Linked DNA regions of Homo sapiens: region 2 is reported to be linked to region 1. Evidence: microRNA targets listed by miRTarBase, many of them from high-throughput screens and not tested one by one. Region 1 holds a microRNA gene; the other region holds the end of a gene's coding sequence.

Region 1 (4,403 bases):
TTCTAATTACATAAGAACACATTTTTAAAAAAAAAGAAGTCTGGCTGGGTGCAGTGGCTCATGCCTATAATCTCAGCACTTTGGGAGACTGAGGCAGGAGGATCACTTGAGTCCAAGAGTTCAAGACCAGCCCAGGCAACATAGCAAGATTCTCTCCCAACCCCTCACCATCTCTACAAATGATTAAAAAAAAAAAATTGCTGGGCATGGTGGCATGCACCTGAGGTCACAATTACACAGGTAGCTGAGGCAGGAGGATCGCCTGAGCCCAGGAGGTTGAGGCTGCAGTGAGCTATGATCATGCCACAGCACTCCAGCCTTGGTGACAGTGTAAGACCCTGTCTCAAAACAAACAAACAAACAAAATCCAAACCAAAACAAGTCAATAGATTTTATGTAATAACATCTTTAACATTCTGAAGATTTAAAGAAAAAGCCATAAGCAATGTTGAAACAAATATTATCCAAGGTTAATATAGTTATATACTAATAGTTCTCACAAATCAATGTACAACTAAACATTTTTATAGAAAAAGGGACAAAAGAAAATGAATTAGCAATCCAAAAAAGGAACAAATACAAAGAATTGATAAACATGGAAAAATAAATCAAACTTCACATAAATAAATTCAAACATACACAATTTATTATCTGGAAAAGTGGTAAATTTTTTTTCAGTTACCAACTCCTTTCCTGACCCCCTTATACACTGCTGACAAAAATGGAAATTTTTAAAATATTTAGCAACACATTACAAAAACCTTGATTTATTCTAAGCAAATTACCATCAATGAGGGCAAAACATGTACACAAACACACACCCATACACATGCACATTACCTACAAGAAACACCTAGTCAAAAATGTATTGGTTAAATATTTTCTATTTCTACAACAAAATCCTAGGAAACCACCAAAATTATTATATACACAGTATGAACCAACTTTTATGTTTATATACACACAGAAAAAATACTAAAAAGATTTATGTCAAAGCATTAACAGCATAGGTATGAGCTGAGAGGAAAAATAACAGAAAAAATTTTAAAATAAAAAAATCAAAGCATTAACAGTAAATTTCTTGGGGTGACAGAATTACAAGCCATTTTTCTTTCCTTCTTTTGCTTTATTACATTTTCTACAATGATTACACATTACTTTTATAGTCAGAAAAGTAAATGAAAATGTTTAGGAATTATAAATCACTATTAAAAATAATATGCAGTCAAAGAATAGTCCTCAAAAAGCTGAGCTGAAAACTTATTTTAAGACTTATTTAAAGAGAGACAAGTTCTCACTATGTTGCCCAGGCTGTTTCAAACTCCTGAGCACAGCAATCCTCCTGCCCTGGCCTCCCAAAGTACTAGGATTACAGGCATAAGCCACTGCACCTGGCCTGAGCTGAAAACTTCTGATAAGAAACTGCTAGGACAGAGGCCTGGTGAGGTGGCTCACGCCTATAATCCCAGCACTTAGGGAGGCCGAGGTGGGTGGATTGCTTGAGTCCAGGAGCTCGAGACCAGCCTGGGTAACACGACAAAACCCTGTCTCTACTAAAAATACAAAAAATTAGCTGGGTGTAGTCACAGCTACTTGGGAGGCTGAGGTGGGAGAATCACCTGAGCCCAGGAGGTCAAGGCTGCAGTGAACTGAGATTGCACCACTGCAGTCTCAGCCTAGGCACCAAAGTGAGACCCTGTCTCAAAAAAAAAAAAGGAAGGGAGGAACGGAGAAAGGAAGGAACTGCAAAGATGACAGCCAAGCTCCTAGCCCACTATGTGCTGTAGAATCAGGACTGTTTGCAGGTTTTTATAAACTCCAGGATTTCCTTTCTGCTGTCATAAATGGAGGCCTTCCAGAAACTGAATCTGTTTTTCTCATTCACAGAGAATGCTACCCACCAAATTCCAGGACTGGGAATTTCTTATTAGAAACCATATTTTAGAATGTTAGGATGCAATATTATACCTCACTGACAGGTGACATTCATTCATTCTCTCAACAAATAGTTATTCAATACTTACTATGTGCTAGTGACACTCTCTAATCCAGGCTGAAGCTTATTTTTGACATAAGGCTTGTAAAACAAATGCCTGTTCTTATAAGTAGAAAACACTGGGGGAGAAACTTATTTGGAAGAACGCTACCTGAGAACATATTAAGAAAAGGAGTGACAAAACAGTGTTGCGTGGTGAGAAACCAACCTGTTTCTTAAAGTATCCAATTGCATATTCATCTGCATATGTGAGGAAGTTCAGGATGTCATGCTTTATGTGATATTCTTTCAAATGATTCATCAGGTGTGTTCCATAGCCCTGTGTGGAAGTTAGTATACAAACAAATACATTAGACTGGGGAGAAAAATTTTTACAAATCCATCAGGAAATGATGGTGAATTCAGAAGTTTGTACTTTTACATATTTTACCAACCAGGACCTTTCCTGAATGAAATATATTAACACCCTTTCTTGCGTTTCTTAACTTTGAAAATAAGCTATAAAACCAAAACAAAATCAAAATCCTTGCTTCAAAGATAAAAATCATCATTTGAAAATGTAAGTTTCTAGTTATTTGAAAATAACACACCAGGGCCACAAGTTCCTAGCTCAATCTTAAAGATCACTTGCTGAATAGTAATATAAAAGTTTTCAGAATGAATGTAGATTATGAATTTCTGCTTATCTTTAAGGTATTTGAGAATCTCAGAAGAAAAAAAAAAGATGCAAATGAAAAGTGCTAATCTTCACTAGAATATTTAGTAATCCAAGTGTTTACTGTACACCACAAACTGGCAACCCTTCTAAAGAACTGAATCATCACATACATAGCATTTTAAATTTGGTCTTATCAGACCTTTCCAAGTAAGGTCTGAGAAGCCCAGAATCTCTGAATCAGCCAGAAGACATTAGAAAGTAACTAAAGGTAGTCAACAATGTTGAATAAACTCAGTCATTGAAATATTTTTATAATATCAAGTTTTTTCAGTGACAAAGCTTACAGAAAACGTGTAAATCTAATGTGATTGTTTTGGAACCTCATAAAGAGAGATAAAAGTAAATCCAAGTGTCCAGACCCAAATATCTTCACATAAATTTTCTGCAATTTGGTGGCACATTTTTCTAAAGAACTCAAATATATTCCCAGGTATGATCTCATGGAATCACAGTACCTCAAGGTCAGAAGGATCTTTGGAAGTCATTCTATCTAACCCCCTAATCCATATGAGGCTAGAGGTCTTTTGCCATCTATCATGAAAAGGCAATCTGCTAGAACACCGCCAACGTAGGCCAATTCCTTGGTGGTGAGATAGACCAATTCATTTTCAGGCATCATATAGTTGGGAATTCCTTCCTAACGTTCACCCAAGATCTGGTCATTGTTATTTCTACTTATTGACCTTAGTTCTACTCCTAGAGTTACAAAGACTCATTCCTGCTTTTAACAGCCCTTCAAGCCTTTGAAGATTATGCTCTCTCACACATGCCCATCCGTACTTTCCCAGTCCCAAGCCAAGCACCATCAAGGCTATAGTCATTCCTCATATGGCATGACTGAATGACACCTTATCAAACTAATCACTTTGGTTTTTATTTTTTTTTTTTTGAGATGGAGTCTTGCTCTGTCACCCAGGCTGGAGTGCAGTGGCACGATCTCGGGTCACTGCAAGCTCTGCCTCCCAGGTTAATACCATTCTCCTGCCTCAGCCTCCCGAATAACTGGGACTACAGGTGCCCGCCACCACACCTGGCTAATTTTTTGTATTTTTAGTAGAGACGGGGTTTCACTGTGTTAGCCAGGATAGTCTCGATCTCCTGACCTTGTGATCTGCCCGTCTCGGCCTCCCAAAGTGCTGGGATTACAGGCGTGAGCCACCGCGCCCGGCCACTAATCACTTTTTTCGGAGTTTTTTCTAATATAACAATGCCTTTCTAAAGCATGGATCCTAGGACCAAGCATAATAATAAGGGGACGGTATGTCTAGTAAACAGAACAGTATCATCATCTCCCTCTTCTGCAAATTATTCTTCCATTGATGTCACCCAAAGACATTTTAGCTTTTAACTTTTCCCAAACATATCACAATACTGAACACTGAGAGTTTGAATAAAACTTGGATAAAAACACAAATGAACTATTTCTCTCCTTGAGGAGACGATAGTAAAATGGGGAAGATAAACATATAAACACATGTGTATAGAGGTATACTATTCAACAGAGTAGACACTAGCCTCATGTGGCTACTGAGCAATTGATATGAGACTAGTCCAGTTTGAAATGTCCTGAAGTATAAAAACACACTAGGAAAAAAATTCTCATTACTAACATTTTATACTTATTACATGTTGATATGACAATAATTTTAGACATATTAAGTAAAAAAAAGTCAAAATTAATTTCACCTG
Region 2 (4,403 bases), not on the chromosome of region 1:
CTAGCTCCCGCTTTCTACCTTTTAGTATGTATTTCTATTATCAGTTTTTAGAAATCACTTCTGGTTTTGTTTTTAAGTTTGGCACTTTATACTATCATATCTCACAAATTACAATGCAGGTAGTGGAAAGGAGGTAGGATGGAAATGATGGTTAATGTTTCGATTTTTGTCTTTTAGAAATTGGAGATATTGCTGGTGTTGCTGATGTTACAATCAGACAGTCCTATAGACTGATCTATCCTCGAGCCCCAGATCTGTTTCCTACAGACTTCAAATTTGACACCCCAGTGGACAAACTACCACAGCTATAAATTGAGGCAGCTAACGTCAAATTCTTGAATACAAAACTTTGCCTGTTGTACATAGCCTATACAAAATGCTGGGTTGAGCCTTTCATGAGGAAAAACAAAAGACATGGTACGCATTCCAGGGCTGAATACTATTGCTTGGCATTCTGTATGTATATACTAGTGAAACATATTTAATGATTTAAATTTCTTATCAAATTTCTTTTGTAGCAATCTAGGAAACTGTATTTTGGAAGATATTTGAAATTATGTAATTCTTGAATAAAACATTTTTCAAAACTCAAGTTTTTGTTATATGTTACATGTAACTTATGATACATAATTACAAATAATGCAAATCATTGCAGCTAATAAAGCTGATAGACTTTATTTCCATTACTTATATATACATAGTTTTTTATTTTAATAAATTTATGGAAAGAGCAAAAGCTTTTGAGAACCATTGTTAACATCAACATCATAGTTTCCAGTTTGAAAGGATGTGTATGTGAGATTTATTATGTATATTATTAAACAAGAAGTGATGAGCTTGGGCCTTGAAAGGCACCAGCTTGAGAGACATTAAAATGTTCTAAGTATGTGATTTTCTTAGTGAGCTTATTGAGCAGAGAATATGATGCTGATAAAAGCAGCAGTAGAACAACAGATTTTAATTTTTGGGTGTTAAAATCTTATGTTATAGAATCTGCATATCCCTGGTTCTTTTTTCTTCTTTGTTAGGCTTACTGGTGTACTCATAGACTAAAGAGCATTTCATTTATTTATTATCTATTATTTTTTGATACAGAGTCTTGCTCTGTTGCCTAGGCTGGAGTCCAGTGGCACAATCTCAGCTCACTGCAACCTCTGCCCCACCTCCAGGGTTCAAGCGATTCTCCTGCCTCAGCCTCCTGAGTAGCTAGGATTACAGGTGCCCACTACTAGGCCCAGCTAATTTTTTTTGTATTTTTAGTAGAGACAGGGTTTCGCCATGTTGGCCAGGCTGGTTTAGAACTCCTGACCTCAAGTGATCCACCTGCCTTGGCCTCCCACAGTGCTGGGATTAGAGGCGTGAGCCCCCATCTGGCCTAAAGAGCACTTTAAATGAAGATTACTGGGCCTGGGATTGTCCAGTAGTTGTTTTTAACTAGCATCCTTTACGTGATTGTGATGTGTTAGATGTTTTGCCTATGACTCTTTAAGGAACAATGATTTAGGGTCATTTGACTTCTACTCACTATAAGAGAAGACCAGCAACATTTTGCTCTTTGATCAGGTAGTTTTTACAGGGGACTTGAATTCATACTAGACATCACCACTGTTCACTGCTCTGGAAACAGGTGTCACAGTTCTGAAACATCTGAAAAGAGGTTAGCACTAGACTAGAAAGACAATCTCCTGTTGTGGCCTGGTGGGCAGGGTCAGACTGGTTCATAGAGGGACTTTCCCAAGAGCAGACCTCCACTGCCATTCTGCTGACCATGGAGCAGGGATAAGTATTGGCACCATGAAGACAAGTGGTATTTTTCCCTTGAACAAAACATAGGACACTCACCCAGTATTGCTCAGAGCTAGGGGAGAACACCGGAAAAATAATCCAGTCAGGGAGAACCTGTCCCACCCAGCGTGAGACCTAGGAAGAAGGAAGCTTCAGTCTATCTCCCTTCTGGACGGCATCTTTGATCTCTAGCATCACACATCTCCACATACGGACTAAGGAGCAGGGGTGCTTTCTAGTGTTCCCCAGGTTCTAGTGACTAGCCACAAAGTTCCCCATTCAGTGACCACTGCAGTTATCAAAGGTTATTTTTGCACTTAGTAAAGGTCAGTACCTACAGATTACAGAAAATTAGGAAAATACATAAGTCACCCGGAAATAACGAGTATTTTGGTGGCTTTTTTCTTTTCTTTTCTTTTCTTTTTTTTTTTGAGACGGGGTTTCACTCTGTAGCCCAGGCAGGAGTGCAGTGACAGGATCTTGGCTCACTGCAACCTCTGCCTCTCGGGTTCAAGTGATTCTCCTGCCTCAGCCTCCCAGTACTTTTTTTTTTTTTTTTTTCATTTCAGCTTCTTGCTGTGCTTATTTTAAGAGAAAGATTCTCACTTTGTCAGCCAAGCTGGAGTGCAGTGGCATGATCATACCTCACTGTAACCTCAAACTCGGGGTGAACTGATCCTCCTCAGCTTCCCAAGTAGCTAAAACTACAGGTTCAGGACACCATACCCAGCTAATTTTTTCTTTTTTTGTAGAGACATGTCTCAGTATGTTGCTCAGGCTGGTCTGAAACTCCTGGCCTCAAGTAATCCTCCCACTTAAGCCTCCCAAAACACTGGAATTACAGGCATGAGCTACCGTGCCTGGCCCACATTTTTTTCAGCATAACTGATTAAGATTTAATATGACTTGTTTAGTCTGTTCGATTTTCTGGTTAAAAAGATGCATTTATTAGGTAGCTAGAAAAATTCAGATAAAGGGAAAAGAAAAATCTAGCCCTTACTACTTGTGTCAACAACATGGTCTTTTTTGTTTTGTTTTGTTTTGTTTTTTTGCTGTCTATACATTTGTAAAGTTTGGATCAGGAGAATTGATTTTGAAGATTAATCTGGAGTCAGAGGGTATGTTTGGATTGTTTTTTTGTTTGTTTTGAGAATGAGGCTTGCATTGTAGGCATTTCTTGAAACTAAAGGAATTAAAATGCTAGTTATAAATCCTCCGTAAGCCACCCGTATGGTTAAATCAGCTTAATTCCAGATACTGAAATAAAGAAAAATGTCTATTCGAAGGGTAACTAGTAGCACTGTGACCTGTTTTTTCCTTCCATCCCTGGCTTCACATGCTTGAGTGTTCTCAAAAGGGGTAGAAGTGGTTGGAATTGGATCCGTTGTTAATAACCCTTTTGGGAAGTCATTAAATCTGACTACTGGAATATTTTCGCTTTCAGCAAAGAAGCGCAGGGCTCCGCAGCAATTCTGTTTGGGGCTCAGGCCCCTCAAGCGTTCTTCACCTGAGCAGGCCCTAGTCCTTATTTGTCTATTTCTTTGAAGACTGTTCCATCTTTATGGAGGTTTTAGTTGGATGATTTTCTACTAAAATTCACTGAAGATGTGGAGTGTTCATTCACAACTAAATCTTACTTATTGTGGCAAAATTACTAATACGTAGACATTTTGAAAATTATGGCCAGGCCCTACTTAGAGTGAAAAGAATTTGACATACTTTGAAAACAATACATTGTAAATTAGTGATTCAACGTGACTGATCTCTTGAGTTGCGAAAAATCCTATATAAAAGTGAACACCCACCTTATTGAGAGATGAGCATACTTAGATCTTGAAGCCAGCTTCTTCTGGGGCCTACATTTTACAAGTAAGTAATATTACTGAGCTATGCAACATAGTTTCTATGAAGATAACGTGGATCCACTTTGTGCATGTTAGCATTTTTTTTTTTTTGAGACGGAGTCTCTTGTCAGCCAGGCTGGAGGCAGTAGCACGATCTCGGCTTACTGCAACCTCCGCCTCCGAGGTTCAAGCCATTCTCCTGCCTCAGCCTCCTGAGTAGCTGGGATTACAGGTGCATGCCACCACAGCCAGCTAATTTTTGTATTTTTGGTAGAGACGGGGTTTCACCATGTTGGTCGGGCTGGTCTCGAACTCCTGACCTCAGGTGATGCGCCCGCCTTGGCCTCCCAAAGTGCTGGGATTACAGACTTGAGCCACCTTGCTCATGTTAGCCACATGTTAGCATTTTTAAACAGTTGAAGTATTCATGAATTTGGTTCCTTCCATTTGGGTATTTGAAACATTCACTGGAAGCCACTTTCATTGATAACCTCTGCTATTACTCTGAGAGTTCAAGGATTTGATTATACGTTTCATGAAATCTTAGCTTCAGTGCTGTGGTCCAATCTCCCCATTTGGTATATCAGAGCAGTGTAGAGAAGTGAGAAGATCTGCGCAAGTTCTCTTAGTAGCAGCAGAGATGAGACGGACTGAGGTTTCAGTCACTCAATCTGGTGTTCTTTCCACTGAACCATACCATTGAAGCTCACCTCACAGGAGGTTGCCTGAGGACCAACTTTAGTTGTACCCTTCAAATAGAATTCCATTCAGTTA

What was found. Region 1 holds the annotated microRNA hsa-miR-3135a (UGCCUAGGCUGAGACUGCAGUG, at 1,662-1,683, opposite strand). A microRNA usually pairs through its seed, bases 2 to 8, with sites in the 3' UTR of a target mRNA and lowers its output. Matches are read on the target gene's strand: a 7mer-m8 pairs with bases 2 to 8, a 7mer-A1 pairs with bases 2 to 7 and ends in A, and an 8mer does both.
Region 2: miRTarBase lists GTF2B as a target of hsa-miR-3135a. The part of its 3' UTR that is shown has no 7-base or 8-base seed match.

Annotation. Positions count from the first base shown.
Region 1 is chr3:20,134,854-20,139,256 of GRCh38, reverse strand. MIR3135A (microRNA 3135a) reads right to left here and starts at 1,692; the gene lies at 1,616-1,692. It overlaps KAT2B (lysine acetyltransferase 2B), which reads right to left. Exons shown (of 18, transcript NM_003884.5): 12 at 2,205-2,315.
Region 2 is chr1:88,849,121-88,853,523 of GRCh38, reverse strand. It overlaps GTF2B (general transcription factor IIB), which reads left to right. Exons shown (of 7, transcript NM_001514.6): 7 at 178-891. The coding sequence ends at 311. Among named protein-coding and RNA genes, the nearest start is that of GTF2B, 40 kb to the left of the region's middle.